2 linked regions of the Homo sapiens genome follow. The protein of the gene in region 1 purifies or fractionates together with the protein of each later gene. This does not show direct contact. Each region holds a gene or a part of one and is shown on either strand. Other genes may lie near its edges.

Region 1 (3,654 bases):
TTATTTTGGTTTCATCTTTAGCTTGCTGTGTATTTTCTTCCTTCTCTAAATCAATGAACTGTTCTGTGTCATCCCTTTTTGTGGGCGTGGAGTGGACGCAGGAGGAGACACGCCTGCGATCCTGGGAGGAAGGAGTGTGTGCATGAGTCTGCTACTGCTGCCGTAACAACATCCCACAGACTAGGCAGCTTAAACACTGAAATTCACCCTCCCACAGTTCTGGAGGATGGATGGCTGAGATCAGGGAGTTGGTTTCCTCTGAGGGCTGTCTCCTTGGCTTGCAGATGGCTGTCTTCTCCCTGTGTCTTCATGTGGTCTTCCTTCCAAAACTGTGTCCAAATTTCCTCTTCTTTTGAGGACACCAGTCATATTGGATTAGGGCCTACTCTAATTACCTCATTTACCCTTAATTACCTCTTTAAAGACACTATCTCCAAATATAGTCACATACGAGGTATACTGGGGCTAGGACTTCGGGGACACGGTTTAGCTCATTGCAGTATACAGTGTATTTCATGTCCTGTTTCTTTGCTGGGAATGTGTCTAGGAAACCCTCTAGTGCTTAGTCCACTTGGAGATATAAACATTTAAGAGGAGACCATGGGAGGAAAATTGACTTTCTTTGCCTTTGTGTAAGCACCTTCATCTTCTCTTCCATTCAAATTTCAGAGTACAAATTCAGAAATTTCTTCCAAACGACATAAACCCCCTTCCTTTCCATCTTTCTGTTTTGTGAACTAGGAAACTTTGCCGGCTATAATTGTGGAGACTGCAAGTTTGGCTGGACCGGTCCCAACTGCGAGCGGAAGAAACCACCAGTGATTCGGCAGAACATCCATTCCTTGAGTCCTCAGGAAAGAGAGCAGTTCTTGGGCGCCTTAGATCTCGCGAAGAAGAGAGTACACCCCGACTACGTGATCACCACACAACACTGGCTGGGCCTGCTTGGGCCCAATGGAACCCAGCCGCAGTTTGCCAACTGCAGTGTTTATGATTTTTTTGTGTGGCTCCATTATTATTCTGTTAGAGATACATTATTAGGTGGGTTTTTTCCTTGGCTGAAGGTATATTATTACAGGTTTGTGATTGGGTTGAGGGTATGGCAGTGGGAAGTAATTTCATGCAAGTTAATTAAGAGAGCAACCACAAGGCAGCCTTAGGTTTATGAAAGTCGTAGAATTATCAAATACCGCCTGGAGTTAGAAGGAAGCAGTTTCTTCCTGTGCATTGGATGCAGACACTTTAAATGTTCTCTCCTCTACCGTATGTTCTTGGTTCAAAGTGTAAACTTTTCTCTGTGAAGCTGTTAATCATCAAAGATGTGAGTTGGTGAGGTGGAGGCGAATTCCTTTTGATTTCAGAAGAAAATATTTGCGAATCTGGCCATGGAAGCCCTCTCTGACCTTTTCTCCAAATTAGAGGAATTAACTGAACATGTGCTAAGGCACATGAAGCTTCTTTGTGCGGAATTAGAGTGCTCATGTTGGGAGTGGGCATCTTGTTAAACTCACAGGATAGATCAACTTTGGATGGATTTTAGACAGTCTATCACATGATAGACTTTCAGATAATCATTTATGGTACTCCTGCATGGTCCGGAATCCCCAGGTTTCTTGGAGCTTTATTGTCAAGGAAAAGTACAAGCTTAGCCACAGCAATGTAGAGTTTCTGCTGCTTAGCTCTTTGCAACACAGTCATGTTGGATGCTTGAGAAATTGGTGACCTGCCCTTCCAAGTCTTAAAAATTGGGGGCTGGGTAGGACTTGGAATGAGGGGGTTGTCTGTTACAAACTTCATGTATCAAGTAGGTTCAGCTTTGTCCTTATTTTTCAGTCAAAGGAAAGCCATAGACACCAATGTATTCCAGGAGGGCTTGACTCCATCCTAGATTCTTCCCATAGCAGTTCTTGAATGCATGGCTGCACGTGCACCTCTCCCCATTTTTGGGGTCCTTCATTGGGGTCAGGATGAATGAAGACATCAAGCTCACTTTGAAGAGCAAGATTCTGATTTGGACAGGTTCATCCTTCTGCTCATCACTTGTTCCCCTTCAATTGATACCCTCTCGTTGTTGGGTTCTGAGAATTTGAAACCTTGCTCTGAATTGAACATGAAAAAGGGCCGTGTAGCCAACATCAGGGACAGCAGTGCTTTTCTCAGTGTGAGTCTTTTAAAACTTGCCTTACAGGTAAGCATCTGTCTGTCTTTATCGATAGATAAGGAGGCTCTTTTGGCTATAAACCTTTATAGTTTTCCTGTTATCACTCTGAGGAATTATTGCTTTATGAGAGAGTACTCTCTCAAGAGGAAAAGAAAGTCCTAGTTTCTGGTCATAGCTACGAATTAAATTTATATTCACGTCTGTTCAGCTCTCTGAAGTTGTTATAGGTATTTTGGACAAGAACTAAAGTTAGCTAAAGTTTCCACATAACCATCAAAGCTGTTATGAAAAAGGGAAGAAGGATGGACCAGGCAGTAAGGAGGTCATTAAATCGTCCAGAGCTTTTCACTAAAATTGGCAGTTCCAGTGTCCAGCCTAAATGGCTTGAATGTATTTTTCTCTCTTCTGGTCTCAGCGAACATGCTTGTCAGCTAGTAGTTATAACAGATTGATGGGTGAGGCAAAATACGCGAAAGTTCTTTTTGGTTACATAAATACTGCATTAGGACTAAGTGCAGTTGAAGTTACAATATTATTAATTAATCCCTCCCTTTTAAATTTATATCTTTGTGAAGCATAGGTTAGCAAATGCCTTTAAAAAATATATTTCCTTTAGGTCTTAATGATCTATTCTTTTGGATAGTCTATTTCACCTGAATGGATTGTTGCTTACAAATTAAATATGTATCAGGGGCTCCCAATCCTGAAAGTCACCTGAATTTCCTGGATCTCTGCTAGAAATCAACCTTTTAAGAGATAAAGGAGGGTTTATCCTAAAAGTACTAGTTACTTCTGAAATTCATGTCATTACTATTGCTTTTGGAGATATAAATAACAACAAAACTTTTTTTTCTTACTACTATAAAACATCATGGACTTATTGGCTCTATAGATACAGCCCAGGTAAGATTTAACATTTTAAAAAATTCTATTCTGTCATCTCTAATATGTTTCCCAATTGTTTCAGGACCAGGACGCCCCTACAGGGCCATAGATTTCTCACATCAAGGACCTGCATTTGTTACCTGGCACCGGTACCATTTGTTGTGTCTGGAAAGAGATCTCCAGGTAGGTCAAAACTATGCATTTAGTTCTTTTAATTTTTTAAAAAATTTATTGTATATATTTAAGGCATACAGTGTGAATTTTGATATACTTATCTTGATACTCATACAAGATAAGTGATTAGTGCACTAAAGTAAATTAACATACTCAGCATCACATAGAGATATCTCTTTTTGTGTGTGTGTGGTAAGAGTACCTAAGGTCTACTCTCTTGGCAAATCACCAGTACACAATACAACGTTAACTATAGTCTCAGACCTCGAGTTATTTATCCTACATAACTGCAACTTTGCACCTTTCAGCCTACATCTTCCCATTTCTCCCAGTCCCTTGTAACTACTATGTAACTCTCTATGTATTCACTCTTTTTCTTTTTTCTTCTTTTCTTTAGATTCCACATATAAGTGAGATAGTGCAGTGTTTTTCTT
Region 2 (2,304 bases), about 42 Mb from region 1:
TCCATCTCATTCCAACTCTAAAAGGTAGTAAGGACTGGAATTAACAACTCCAGATTACAGATGAAGAATCTGAGACTCAGAAAGATAAAGGAGCAGCTTTAGTGTCAAAAGGTCAGAAGTTTGTAAATGAAGAAGCTGAAGGTAGGCCCAGATGTGCTAACTGCTTGCCCAGCGCTCTTTCAAAATGCCACCTTGCCATCTTACAATGCATTATGCTGGTAATAGATACCCTGTGGATGTATCTGTATATCATATCATCACTGTCAGAAAAACAGCCTGAGGTTCTCTTGAATGACTTAAAGCTGACTTCCAGGCTGAGATGCGGCACTGTTAAGGGACAATGAGAGACCCACACAAATGTGCTGACAGCATAAACAAAAACAATTTTCACCAGTACCTAGTATGGAAAGGATTGCTGGCAGCACCTTGGCCTCTACCACCCTACACACACCTATAAAGCATCAGTCAGTCCCACCTCTTGACTGTATGCTTTGAGAACACGATTAAACAAGTCTGTTTAAAATTTCTTTTTTAAGGAAATCATTAGGTATATTCAAAAGGGTCATCCACTGTATTGTTTAGAATTTAAATGTACTAGAATTTTTCTGTGTTCTAATGTCTGATCAATTCTAAAATGCTAGTCAATTAATGGTCATCCATTTTCTTTTTTTAAAAAATGTGGCTCAACTACATGCAATGTGCTGAGCCAGTTTTGGAATCCACCCTGTAGCAGAGTAAAACTGGACCAAAGGAAGTGGAATCAGGGCCCCTGACTGTCACTTCTCCAGCTACACAACCTACAGTTTTTCTTCTTTATTGTGACGTGTGGTGATTCGTTTTGGATTCCTCTGTATGACAGGCAGGTCTGACCTTGAGGAAGACTGGTAGCCCACATCCTCTGCTTTTATGGGCTTAATGATATGGCCTGGCTTGGTGACGACCTTGGGAGTAGTCAGCTTTTGGAAAGCCCTCTGGGTGTTCCATGTGGATCCTATAGGGGTCTGGATGGTCCTTTCAAATTGCCGATGGTGGGTAAATGGATATGGAAGCACTTGTACCTGATGAGCTGCTGCGTGGATGTTGCGCTTCTCACTGATAATCACATTTGGCAAATTCTTATCTTTTCTTGGAGGACCCTCAGGGGCTTTAATGAGAAACTGGCGTCTTTTCTTGGCACTGGGCTTTAGGCCCACACCACCCCACTCGCCCCAGCCAGGTAGTGTCAGGTCCACGTCCTTTGGCTTACTCGCCTCCACAGCTTCCCTCTTCTCTTTCAAGAAATCTCTGATGACATCATCCCCAGCAAAAGCTTCCTTTATCATCTGCCTTTGGTCTCTCTCCTCTTCATCTTCCAGCTCCTCTATTATTGTGGGAACTGCCAAAGACCTCACGGAAGGAGACTGTGTGGTCAGGAAGTTCTGTAGGTTGATCAGTTGCTCCTTCTCTTTCTTCTCCTTAGGGGCATCAGGCCGATTATTTGGGGTCCTCTCTGACTGCTGTCCTTCTAACACAGGTCTGGGAAGCTCCTTATTTTGAAAACAATCTTCTTTTCCCAGCTCTTCTAGCTCTTCCAGAGTTTGTACTCTCTCTGACCTCTGTAGCAATAGGGGTTCCGCTTCTTCTGGGGCAGGTTCCTCTCTCTGGACCTGGGGAACAGTCCCCTCTGAACTTGCTTTTTGCTTCCTGGACTGATGTTTTTCCTTCAATTTCTGAGATAGTGCCCTCAATTCGGACAGCACCTCCTGGCTGCTAGAATCTTTTGTTTCTTGACTGCTTGCTGGCTCAGCATCCTGGTTGAGCTCAGATCTTTTTCTAAGGGATTGCCTTTCCTCAAATTCTCTCAACAAAATTTCTTCCTCTGCCACTGGTCTTTCTTCTGCCTCACTTGCAGAAACCTCATGAGCTGCAAGCTCTGGCACTTGCTCAGGGTCCTCCTGTGTTGCAGCCTCTTTGGTGTCACTGGTGCAGCTCCTGAACATCCAGGGATTCGGTCCGTCCACATTCATCTGCACTTCATTCGCTACATGAGGGACAAGGAGTTCTTCCACTTCTGTGCCTCCCTCCTCTTCCTCACTCTCAGAGGCTACCTGGAGTTTCTGTGTCAGTTCTTTGTTCTTGGCCAACTGTTCCTGCATAGCTTGGCGAGCCTCCAGGTCATATTTGGCCATAATTGCCTTTGACTTGGCCCATTTCCCACTGTTTTGGTGCTTAAGGCTCATTCTTTCCATCATTCTGGCATTTTCAATTTTTTCCATTTCTTCCAGTGCCACAGTTGGATTAACCTTCTGTAGCTGCTCAAACTCT

What was found. Proteins that work in one complex are often made in the same cells at the same time.
Region 2: the proteins of DCT (region 1) and ALG11 purify together in Homo sapiens (affinity purification with mass spectrometry; one large-scale study listed by BioGRID and IntAct). This does not show direct contact.

Annotation. Positions count from the first base shown.
Region 1 is NC_000013.11:94,466,133-94,469,786, reverse strand, and holds part of DCT (L-dopachrome tautomerase isoform 1 precursor), read left to right. Parts: intron 1-741; coding exon 742-1,041; intron 1,042-3,128; coding exon 3,129-3,229; intron 3,230-3,654. UniProt on the Homo sapiens protein: Plays a role in melanin biosynthesis. Catalyzes the conversion of L-dopachrome into 5,6-dihydroxyindole-2-carboxylic acid (DHICA).
Region 2 is NC_000013.11:52,029,599-52,031,902, reverse strand, and holds part of ALG11 (GDP-Man:Man(3)GlcNAc(2)-PP-Dol alpha-1,2-mannosyltransferase), read right to left. Parts: coding exon of another isoform or gene 798-2,304; 3' UTR 1-797. Other genes in the region: UTP14C (U3 small nucleolar RNA-associated protein 14 homolog C), read right to left, coding at 798-2,304. UniProt on the Homo sapiens protein: GDP-Man:Man(3)GlcNAc(2)-PP-Dol alpha-1,2-mannosyltransferase that operates in the biosynthetic pathway of dolichol-linked oligosaccharides, the glycan precursors employed in protein asparagine (N)-glycosylation.